Homo sapiens: one gene and its partners. The protein of the gene in region 3 purifies or fractionates together with the protein of the main gene of each other region. This does not show direct contact. Each region holds a gene or a part of one and is shown on either strand. Other genes may lie near its edges. The genes, in order: CNN2, ALDH9A1 and USP46.

Region 1 (3,110 bases), on a different chromosome or scaffold from region 3:
ATGGACCACTCGACCATCAGCCTCCAGATGGGCACGAACAAGTGTGCCAGCCAGGTGGGGCTCGCCCGGGTGCCCCCGACTCCTCTCCCTGCCCCTCTACACCCTGTGGTCTCGGCCCCTCCCTGGGGCCACCTCCAGCTTCTCTCCCCACTCTCAGTCTCAGCCCCTTCCCTAGACCACCTCCGGCTTCCCTCCCCGCTCTCTGTCTCCGCCTTGGATTTCAGCCTCTGTCATTTCCACCTGGCTGTGGGTCTCTAGGGAAGTTACTACCTCACCCTGTGTCATTTTCCCTTAAGGACTGCCCAAAGGTCCACCCAATTCTTTTTTTTTAATCTTTATTTATTTTATTTATGTATTTATTTTGAGATAGGATCTCACTCTGTTGTCCAGGCTGGAGTGCAGTGGCACGATCTCGGCTCACTGCAACCTCTGCCTCCCGGGTTCAAGAGATTCTCCTTCCTGCCTCAGCCTCCCGAGTAGCTGGGACTACAGGTGCATGCTGCCACACCCGGCCAATTTTTGTATTTTTAGTAGACATGGGGTTTCACCATGTTGCCCAGGCTGGTCTCGAACTCCTGAGCTCAGGCAATCCACCCGCCTTGACCTCCCAAACTGCTAGGGTTACAGGTGTGAGCCACCGCACCCGGCCACACCCAGCTAATTTTTGTATTTTTAGTAGAGACGGGGTTTCACTGTGTTGGTCAGGCTAGTCTTGAACTCCTGACCTCAGGTGATCCTCCCACCTCAGCCTCCCGAGTAGCTGAGACTACAGGCGCCCGCCACCACGCCCGGCTAATTTTTGTATTTTTAGTAGATATGGGGTTTCACCGTGTTGGCCAGGCTGGTCTTGAACTTCTGACCTCAGGTGATCCTCCCACCTCAGCCTCCCGAGTAGCTGGGATTACAGGCATGTGCCACCACGCCCAGCTAATTTTGTATTTTTGGGAGAGACAGGGTTTCACCGTGTTGGCCAGGCTGGACTGGAACTCCTGACCTCAGGTGATCCTCCCACCTTGGCCTCCCAAAGTGCTGGGATTACAGGCGTGAGCCAGTGCACCCAGTGAAGGTCCCCTCTTCTCTCCACCATGACCTGCTCCACCCCTCCTTCCTCTCCAGGTGGGCATGACGGCTCCCGGGACCCGGCGGCACATCTATGATACCAAGCTGGGAACCGACAAGTGTGACAACTCCTCCATGTCCCTGCAGATGGGCTACACGCAGGGCGCCAACCAGAGCGGCCAGGTCTTCGGCCTGGGCCGGCAGATATATGACCCCAAGTACTGCCCGCAAGGCACAGTGGCCGATGGGGCTCCCTCGGGCACCGGCGACTGCCCGGACCCGGGGGAGGTCCCTGAATATCCCCCTTACTACCAGGAGGAGGCCGGCTACTGAGGCTCCCAGCACGCTCTCTCCCCACATCGTCTGCCCATCTGGGTTTTTGGGTTTTTCTGTGTTTTCATCTTTTTTTTTTTTTTCTTAACCCGTTCAGTGCTGCCAGTCAACCAAGGGTCTGTGAGTGTCAGCGTGGGATCAGGCAGCAGAGCTTTTTTCCCCTTTGCCTTGATCCTTCGCAAGGCTGAGCCACTGGGCTGTGGGGGAAGGGGTCAAGGCCATATCCCAATACGTGTAGGGCGAGGGTCCCTGCTGGCACATTCAGGCTGTGCTGGGAAGAAGAGACCTGGGCTTGGAAGGAACCGGTCCCCGACGGTTTCTGCTTGCCTCGCCTCTTCCCCCTTTTGTCAGCTGAGCAGTTTGTGGTTTCTATGCCCGCAAGTTTCAGGAAGTATTCACAAAAGAAAAATACATTTTTTCCCCCAGGGGTGGGGCAAGGACAGTGGAGAGAGTGCTAGGAAATGAGTCCCCTGGGAAAGGGGACCGGGCCGTGATGTTAAATATCTCCGGCTCCCAAGTGACTGGATTTGCCTAGGACCTTCAGACCAACAGACTTCAGACCCTCAGACCTGCCCCGGGGCCAGGTGGAGAAAGTGAGGGCCGTACAAGGAAGTGAAATTCTGAGTTGTTGGGGCTAAGCCTGACCCCCTCTCCATGCTCCCCGCCCCAACCCACTCTGGCCTCAGTAGATTTTTTTTTCAGTTGTGGTTGTTGCCCAGGCTGGAGTGCAGTGGCGCCATCTTGGCTCACTGCACCTCCACCTTCCGGGCTCAAGCGATTCTCCAGCCTCAGCCTCCTGAGTAGCTAGGACTGCAGGTGCTCCACCACGCCCGGCTAATTTTTGTATTTTTAGTAGAGATGGGGTTTCCCCATGTTGGCCAGGCTGGTCTCGAACTCCTGGCCTCAGGTGTGATCCGCCCGCCTCCGCCTCCCCAAGCGCTGAGATTACAGGTGTGAGCCACCGTGCCCAGCCCCTCAGTAGGTTTTAAGGAGCCCCCAGCCCTCCTCCCTTCTGGGCCCGACCAGCTTATACTGCTCCATCTTCCCCGGCCACATGCCCCGCCAAGTACTGCACAGGGACCCCCCACCCAGGGGACCTGCTCCGTGAGATAATGTGAAATACGACTGTGGACCAAACGCAATAAAACCTCTGTTTGTACGAAGAGAAGGTGGCCAAGAGAGTTGGCGTCGATGAGGGCGTGCTTTGCTTTGATGCTTTTGTGGGGAGAGAGGAGGTCTTGGGGGATGGGGGGATCAAGGGGAAAATGTCCACCTCACCATTGGGAGGAGGAGCAAAAGCTGAAGCCACAGGTGAGTCTGGGTGGAATGAATGATTTGAAGGGCCGGGACTTGGGGTAGAGGGAGAGGCTGGGCTTCCTGGCCATTTGGAGAAGAGGCAGTTCCCTCAAATGCCCCCCATGCGCTTTGGCTGCACTCTACCTTACAGCGCAAGTCTCGTGGCCTCAGCCTGGATGTCTCCCCGTTGGCGAACTCCTATTTATCCTCAAAGCCCCAACGGCAATGCCACCTCCTGCCGCGGGAGCCGTCCCCACGCCTCTCACTCTCCCCAGCGCCTTCAAAGCTGTGGACCCACACGCTCCCATTTCAGCTTCACCTCCAGCCTGAAGAGTTTATTTCAACTCTTCTTCCAGAGTGGGAAACGGGTTTTCCTCAAAATCAGGGTAGCCACTATAATCGGAGACTCTAGAATGTTGGCC
Region 2 (3,752 bases), on a different chromosome or scaffold from region 3:
AAGTTTTGCAACACTCCTAAACATTATCTCAGAATCTCAGGGGTCTTGTAAAATGAAAGTCAAAAGTAATCAGTCTATTGGGTTATAAACTCTGACTGTAAATCCCTTGTCTATATTCTATGTAGGTTATATCATACTACTTGATACTTGATAAATATAGTTAATAAGCAGTAATATCAGGATAAGGCAACCCTAAAGGAACATTTTTTTTTTCTCAAAAATTCCCAGATTTCCTTTTCTTATTCCACCTTTATTCCCTCTCCCTATTCTGGTGCAAATTATGAAACAATCAGTTTTTCTAGGCCCATAGCCCAAGGACTGTACTGCCTCTACCAACAAGAATTCTTTAAGTTTGCCAACTCAGCAAATCCTCTTCACAAGAACTCCTGGGACTCTTTCCAGGGAGATTTCACAAATCTGCAATTTCTGTTACAAACTTGAATAGCCAGCTGGTAAAGGCGGTGGCTGAGGATCACACACACTGTAGGCAATTAAAGCAAAGAGCAATTTTTCTTTCTTTTGTATCAGGATTAAGTCGGGGTAGAGAAGCTGTTTCCTCCTATATAAAGAAGAGATGTGATAATGCCTTCTGGCTCTGCCAAGTCACTGCTCTGTGGTTTAGTGTGGATGGTCAAATACTAAATTCTCCAGTCCCCTGCAAATCAGTTTTATTGCTCTGGCTACATTTTACACAAAATATTTACATTTTTCTCCCCACATATATTCCATAAAACCCAGCAAAATAAACACAACACAAAACCAAAACAAAAAGCCCCTTCTTCCTTATCTCTGTGACCTTCAGAGTTCCCAGAGTAAATCCAGTGCCTAGCACAGTGCTTAGCACACATTAAGCACTGGATTAAAAAGTTTTATTTCAGCAAGATGAATAAATTGTGGAGAGCTCACGTAGACCATGGTGACTATGGTTACCAATACTGCATCATATACTTGAAATTTGCTAAAAGAATAGATCTTAAATATTTCACTATCCAAAAAAAGCCATTAACTATGCAGAAGCAATGGATAATTAGATTGACCGTGGTAACCATTTTGCAAGGTATACATACATTACAACACGTTTTACACCTTAAGTATATACAATTTTTATTTGTTAATTATACTTCAATAAAGCTGGGGAAGAAAGTACTGAATAAAGGTGGGGTTTTTTCCTTTCCCAATTCTGATTAATGTGCAGAAATATTTTAATATTAGAATGTGGAGACAAAGTCCTCATTCGTAGTCATTAGAAACTATCTGTGAGCGTTCCTTCATTCCCAGCACAAATGATTATCTTCCCCACAACCCCGCCCCGTTCTTTTAGAATTCCTCTCCTATGCACACATTTGAAGACAATAATACATCAGTCCTGGTTTTAAAAGGGGGAACAGTTGGCTGGGCTTGGTGGCTCACGGCTGTAATCCCAGCACTTTGGGAGGCTGAGGCGGGAGGATCACCTAAGCTCAGGAGTTCGAGACCAGCCTGAGTAACATGCTGAAAACCCGTCTCTACTAAAAATACAAAAATTAGCCGGACATGGTGGTGGGAGCCTGTAATCCCAGCTACCAGGGAGGCTGAGGCGGGAGAAGCACTTGAGCCCGTAAGGTAGAGGGCGCAGTGAGCTCTGAGATGGTGCCCCTGCACTCCAGCCTGGGCGACAGAGTGAGACCCTGTCTCAAAACAAACAAAAAACAAACAAACAAACAAAACAAACAAAAAAGGAAGTTAACAGAGGCACGACTTCCCCCACCAGTACTTTGCGAACTCTGTTCTGGCCCGGGTAAAACAACTCACGATCCTACCACGCAACTCATCAGCTTTGCTTTTCCTCCCTACCCATCCCTGCCCGGAGGCACTCGCGTTGCCCCAGAATCGCTAGTTGCCTACACACACAACCTTAGACTCTCCACTGTCACTGTCTTGTGCTCAAGTCAACGCTGCAGAACACAGGAAACGGGGGCTGGCCGGGAAATCCGCGCATCCGGCCCCAGGGCGCCCCAGCCTCCCCGGCTCGTTGCAGTTACCGGTTGCTGGCTCGAAAGCTTTCTCGGTACCGGAGGCGTCCGCCGGCTCCACGCGGGCCCCGCCGCGGTAATTGAGCGGCTGCGACACGACGAAGGTGCCAGTGCTCATGGCGGCGACAGGAGAGGGCCGAAGACTGCGAAGAAGCGGGGAGAGCGCGGCCAGGCCTGCTCGGAGAAACATGAGTGGCGGACGCAGCTCCGCGGCAGAGGCTGACGGGCCGCGGGAGGGGCGGGGCCGCGGGAGGGGCGGGGCCGCGGGATCGGTTCTAGGAGATTTTAGGGGCAGTCACTCGATTCCTCTGCGGTCCAGGCCAGGCCCTCCCCTCGCCAGGAGGGTGGAGCAAGACACCACATTCTCCCCACCACCCCGCCATACCCCACACAGTCTCCAGGCGGGAAGAGGACTTCCTTCTTCGTGATCAATATTTGCGTAGCACTTTGCAAGTGTTTTCGGGTTCATCATTGCATGTAAGCATCCTAGGATCCCATTCTTAATCCTATCGCCTGAAGAAGGCAGAGGATTGGAGTGCCAAGAGTCTTTGGTGGTTACTTCACTGCTAAACCACCGTTTCTGTAATTGTATAATGCTTTTTAAAGGGTGACAGTAAAAAGCAAGGGGACTGTGAACGAGATAGATGATATTGTGATCTGAAACTGCTTTTTAAATTCTTAAAGAGAGACTGGGCGCTGTGGCTCTCACCAAGGCTGGAGGATCGCTTGAGCCCAGGAGTTTGCGGGCAACAGAGAGAGATCCCGTGTCTATAAAAAAATAAAATAAAAATAATAAAAATTGGGCCGGGCGCGGTGGCTCACGCCTGTAATCCTAGCACTTTGGGAGGCCAAGGCGGGCAGATCACCTGAGGTCAGGAGTTCGAGACCAGCCTGACCAAAATGGTAAAACCCCGTCTCTACTAAAAATACAAAAATTAGCTGGGTGTGGTGGCGGGCGCCTGTAATCCCAGCTACTTGGGAGGCTGAGGTGGGAAAATCGCTTGAACCCGGGAGACGGGTTGCAGTGAGCCGAGACTATGCCATTGCACTCCAGTCTGGGTGACAAGAGTGAAACTCAGAAAAAAAAAAAATTATCCAGGTGTGGTGGCACACGCCTGTGGCCCCAGGTACTTGGGCGGCTAAGGTGGGAGGATCCCCTGAGCCCCGGGGGTCCAAGCTTGCAGTGAGCTATAATCGTGCCACTGCACTCAGGCCTGGGCAACAGAGCGAGACCCTGTCTCAAAATAAATAAATTCTGAAGGAGCAATGTAAATGCTATTAATGACAAATATTGATAGAAACAGAAGCCTAACATACAGAATACGAAGAGCAAAGGCCACAGGAAAAAGTGTCAGGAAACAAAATGCCTTCTGTAAGACAAAGCAGCCACCCAGAGGCACTCACAGGTCTGTCAGCTGAGGGATCTTGCACAAAGGTTCATTCTTCTCACCAAACTTCCATGCACCTCCAGTAGAGACTTTGACAAACAGAAAGTAATTGGCAATTTGGACATTTCTTTTAGGATTGTTTCTCTTCTGGGGGCTGCTGTCTTTCTCAATGTTTTTTCCTTTACCTGCCAGCTCACCAGCGCAATATTAGGGAGTGTGGTTTTCAGGTTTAGAGTATATATAATGTATTCTGATCAAGTTTTCTGGCACTCTATACCAGTTTGTTCACTTTTTCAGTGCTACTGAGATGTGTAGGTCTTGGTCCTCAGATGGAAACAGCAGTGCCCAAACT
Region 3 (3,652 bases):
TTTCTAACTTTCTTATCACCTGTTCTTTTTCTTTTTTCTTTTTTTGATACAGAGTCTCACTCTGTCACCCAGGCTGGAGTGCAGTAGTACGATCTCAGCTCACTGTAACCTCTGCCTCCTGGGCTTAAGTGATTCTCCTGCCTCAGCCTCCCGAGTAGGTGGGATCATAGGCACCTGGCACCATGCCCAGCTAATTTTTGTGTTTTTAGTAGAGACGGGGTTTCACCATGTTGGCCAGGCTGGTCTCAAACTCCTGACCTCAAATGATCGGCCTGTCTTGGCCTCCCAAAATGCTGGGATTATAGGTGTGAGCCACTGTGCCCAGCCTCTAATCACCTATTCTTATAACTGATGTGTTAATAATTTCCTCATGAGTCCTTATGAAATGATATATATTTTTTAAACCTCTGTCTCTAAATAAGAGGTCCTAATGTTTAAGCAATACAAACAAAAATAATATTGGGTGTCTACTATGTGTTATATACTCTGCTAAGTACTTTATATAATTTACCTTTAATCTCAAGAGAATAGTGATTATATTTAATCATTACTTGTTTATCTAGCATAATATCTGGCACATGGCAGGGCTCAACAAATATTTGCTGAATGACTGAATGAATAAACAAATAAGTAAACAATCGGACAGACAACTCTCCAAGTTGTTCTCTCCAAGGTCAGCGTTCTTATCCCAGTTTCACTGGTGAGGAGGATAACTGACTTCCCCAAGGCTCCATGGCTACAAGCCCAGGTAGCTGAGATTGATTCAAAGCCAACCCTGCTGGGCCCCACAGTCGGGATCCTTCTCACCACACAAAGATAACCCTGAGCTAAATCTTTACCTACCTTTTCTGGGCTTCTTGTTTGCTGCAGCATGTTTCACAATAATATTTTTGTTCACTACACAGTGTTTCTGTGTTGCTGAAGTCTCTGTAGAGGAAAATATTTCCATCTTTAAAAAATGTCCAAATCTACTTGGTATACTATGTTTTAAATCCCTCAATTAACCTGTAGGGTAATTTTTAAGTAAAAATGGAAGAAGAAGTAATCAGAAAAAAATCCTACTTAAGACTAGGATGGTAGAGAAACTACAGGATGAAAAACAAAAATAAGCTAAGACTGGGTGCCATTACGGTGGTAGACATGCTCTTTTCATCGAATCATGAATTTACCATGAGAGATTCAAATATAGTTTTATTTAATGGGACACAGGCAGATATAAATTAGGGTTTCCAACTGGATTCAGAAAAAAAACTCATGATTTAATGGAGAATACCTATAAGCTAGAAATTAAAATCGTAATAGAAAAATACTGTTGAGTAAAAGTTCACCGTAAACACTAAAACTTAGATCCAGAAAGTAAATCACATAACATGCAAGGTGACATTATTGTGTAGTTAATGAAAAATAGTATTTCTCTGGTAGTCCATATTTTCAAAGAGCATGAAAGTAAAGATAATGAAATTTAAACCACATACAAAACTGCCCTCTTAGTGAACTAAAGAAATCCTGAATTAATCAGATGACCACCTCCTACCAACCCCTGCTCCCCACTGCTCCCCCGCCGGAGGAGATGAACTTTTGCCTGCCTCCTTTGGAGAACAAAAGCCATTGTGTTTGTCATATGTGTATCTGCCTTATCATGAGGTTCTACTCTGCTACTTACGGTTTTTATTTTTTAAATGTCATGGTTTTTCATTCTTTTCCAGCCATCAAGATTCTACTTAACATTTCTGTGGTACTGCTTCAAAGGCTGAAAAGAACATCTGGACTAATACCCTATAGTTTTGAAAAATTCTGGGGCATTTCCTTGTTCAGTGTCCTAGTACCATAATGACCAGATTTTATTAAACAGAAAATGTTATTTAAAATGTGTTAAATGATTCTACCACTTACACAGAACACATCAAAAGAAAACACAGATTCTTTCATTCATTAAGTCCCCAAATGTTTCCTGCCAGTCCTCTGGGCTAGGTTCTGGGGATCCACAGAGAATAACTGCCTTCATACGGCTCACACTTTAACAGAGATGTGTGCAAATGAACCACTGACAACATGAAATGATCAGTGCAGCTTCAACAGAAAGCATTACATGATTCCCCTGCTGAAATCCTCCAGCAGTTTCCAGTGCACTTATCCACCCTGCCTCCTTCTCTCTGCTCCAGCCACACTGGCCCTGGGAAATCCTCTTCTCACCTTAGGGTGATTGCAGGTGCTATTTTCTCAGCACTGAGAGCTTCCTCCCAGAGGCTTCCATGGCTGGCTAACCCGGTTGTTCAGCACTCAGCCTAAACATCCCCTCTTTGGAGAAAACTTCTCTGGCCACTTTGTCCAAGCCTATCCAGCCCCTATCACATTGCCGTCTTATTTCTTCCCAGCATCTGAAACCATTCCTCTGTTCATTTGATTACTTGCCTCCCCTCTATGTGGGCAGTGCACTTGTCATTCCTATATCCCCAGCATGACACACAATGGAACACATTAATATTTGTTGGTTGAATGAATGAACCAACCAAGACAGAAGCAGGTGTAAAGTCCAGGAGAAAGCACAGAGAAAGAGGGAAAGTGTGCCAGGTGAACAAGTGAATAAGGGTCAATGACTCCTGAGAGAGAACACTGCAGTGCAGAGGCCTGGAGGTAGGGAACAGCAGCGGTGACGTATTAGTCTGTTCTCATGCTGCTAATAAAGACATACCTGAGACTGGGTAATTTATAAAGAAAAAGAGGTTTAATGAACTCACAGTTTCACATAGCTGGGGAGGCCTCACAATCATGGCAGAAGGCAAAGGAGGAGCAAAGTCATGTCTTACATGGCAGCAGACAAGAGACAGCAGGTGCAGGGGAACTCCCATTTATAAAACCATCAGATCTTGTGAGACTCATTCACTACCACGAGAATAGTATGGGAAAAACTGCTCCCATGATTCAATTATCTCCGCCTGGCCCCACCTTTAACACGTGGGAATTATTACAATCCAATGAGATTTGGGTGCAGACACAGCCAAACCATATCAGGCAGCAAGTCACATAGCCTGGACTATGCTACCAAGAAGCCAGCATGAACCCTAACCAACAGTCTCAACAAAGAAACGACATAATCAGGTAGTGCTTTTTAGAAATTCCACTTTTGACAGCATGGTGGAGGGGGCATTGGAGAGGGATGAAAGGCAAGAAAGCCATTAGAATGCAAATGTACTAAACTTTCAGATTTCAAGTACATGGTGCATAAAACAAACTCATACTTAGCTGAATGAATACTTCAATTGAGTAAGTGCTGTGGAATCTTGTTTTGGCTGCATGGGATTGACTGGAGTGGAACGGGGAGCCAGAGGCAGGGAGATGAGTGTGGGTGTGATGGAGCTTCATATCCTCCCAATGTCTACTGCAGAGAAGCTGTACTACCAAGCTAAAGGGTCACAATAGCCAAAGAAAGGCCAGCAACAAATAAGGAATCATTCATTCCTACTCATTCTTATTTTCCCCAAAAACTTATTTGATTTGTAGACCCAGACAGGTGGAAATATAGCAGAAGTTAATACCTAATGTAAAGACCCATTTTACAAAGAAGCTTGCTGACAGAGTAATGCTCTTAGGGCATCCATGAGTTGAGAATTAGAAAATGAAGGTAAGTTAGGAGAAGGCGAGGACCCCAGCA

What was found.
Region 1: the proteins of USP46 (region 3) and CNN2 purify together in Homo sapiens (co-immunoprecipitation; one large-scale study listed by IntAct). This does not show direct contact.
Region 2: the proteins of USP46 (region 3) and ALDH9A1 purify together in Homo sapiens (affinity purification with mass spectrometry; one large-scale study listed by BioGRID and IntAct). This does not show direct contact.

The regions. Positions count from the first base shown.
Region 1 is NC_000019.10:1,036,509-1,039,618, forward strand, and holds the end of CNN2 (calponin-2), read left to right. Parts: coding exon 1-54; intron 55-1,116; coding exon 1,117-1,392; 3' UTR 1,393-2,557; downstream 2,558-3,110. UniProt on the Homo sapiens protein: Thin filament-associated protein that is implicated in the regulation and modulation of smooth muscle contraction. It is capable of binding to actin, calmodulin and tropomyosin. The interaction of calponin with actin inhibits the actomyosin Mg-ATPase activity.
Region 2 is NC_000001.11:165,696,357-165,700,108, forward strand, and holds the start of ALDH9A1 (4-trimethylaminobutyraldehyde dehydrogenase isoform 1 precursor), read right to left. Parts: upstream 2,207-3,752; 5' UTR 2,203-2,206; coding exon 2,022-2,202; exon of another isoform or gene 1,894-2,021; intron 1-1,893. UniProt on the Homo sapiens protein: Converts gamma-trimethylaminobutyraldehyde into gamma-butyrobetaine with high efficiency (in vitro). Can catalyze the irreversible oxidation of a broad range of aldehydes to the corresponding acids in an NAD-dependent reaction, but with low efficiency.
Region 3 is NC_000004.12:52,603,658-52,607,309, forward strand, and holds part of USP46 (ubiquitin carboxyl-terminal hydrolase 46), read right to left. Parts: intron 928-3,652; coding exon 844-927; intron 1-843. UniProt on the Homo sapiens protein: Deubiquitinating enzyme that plays a role in behavior, possibly by regulating GABA action. May act by mediating the deubiquitination of GAD1/GAD67.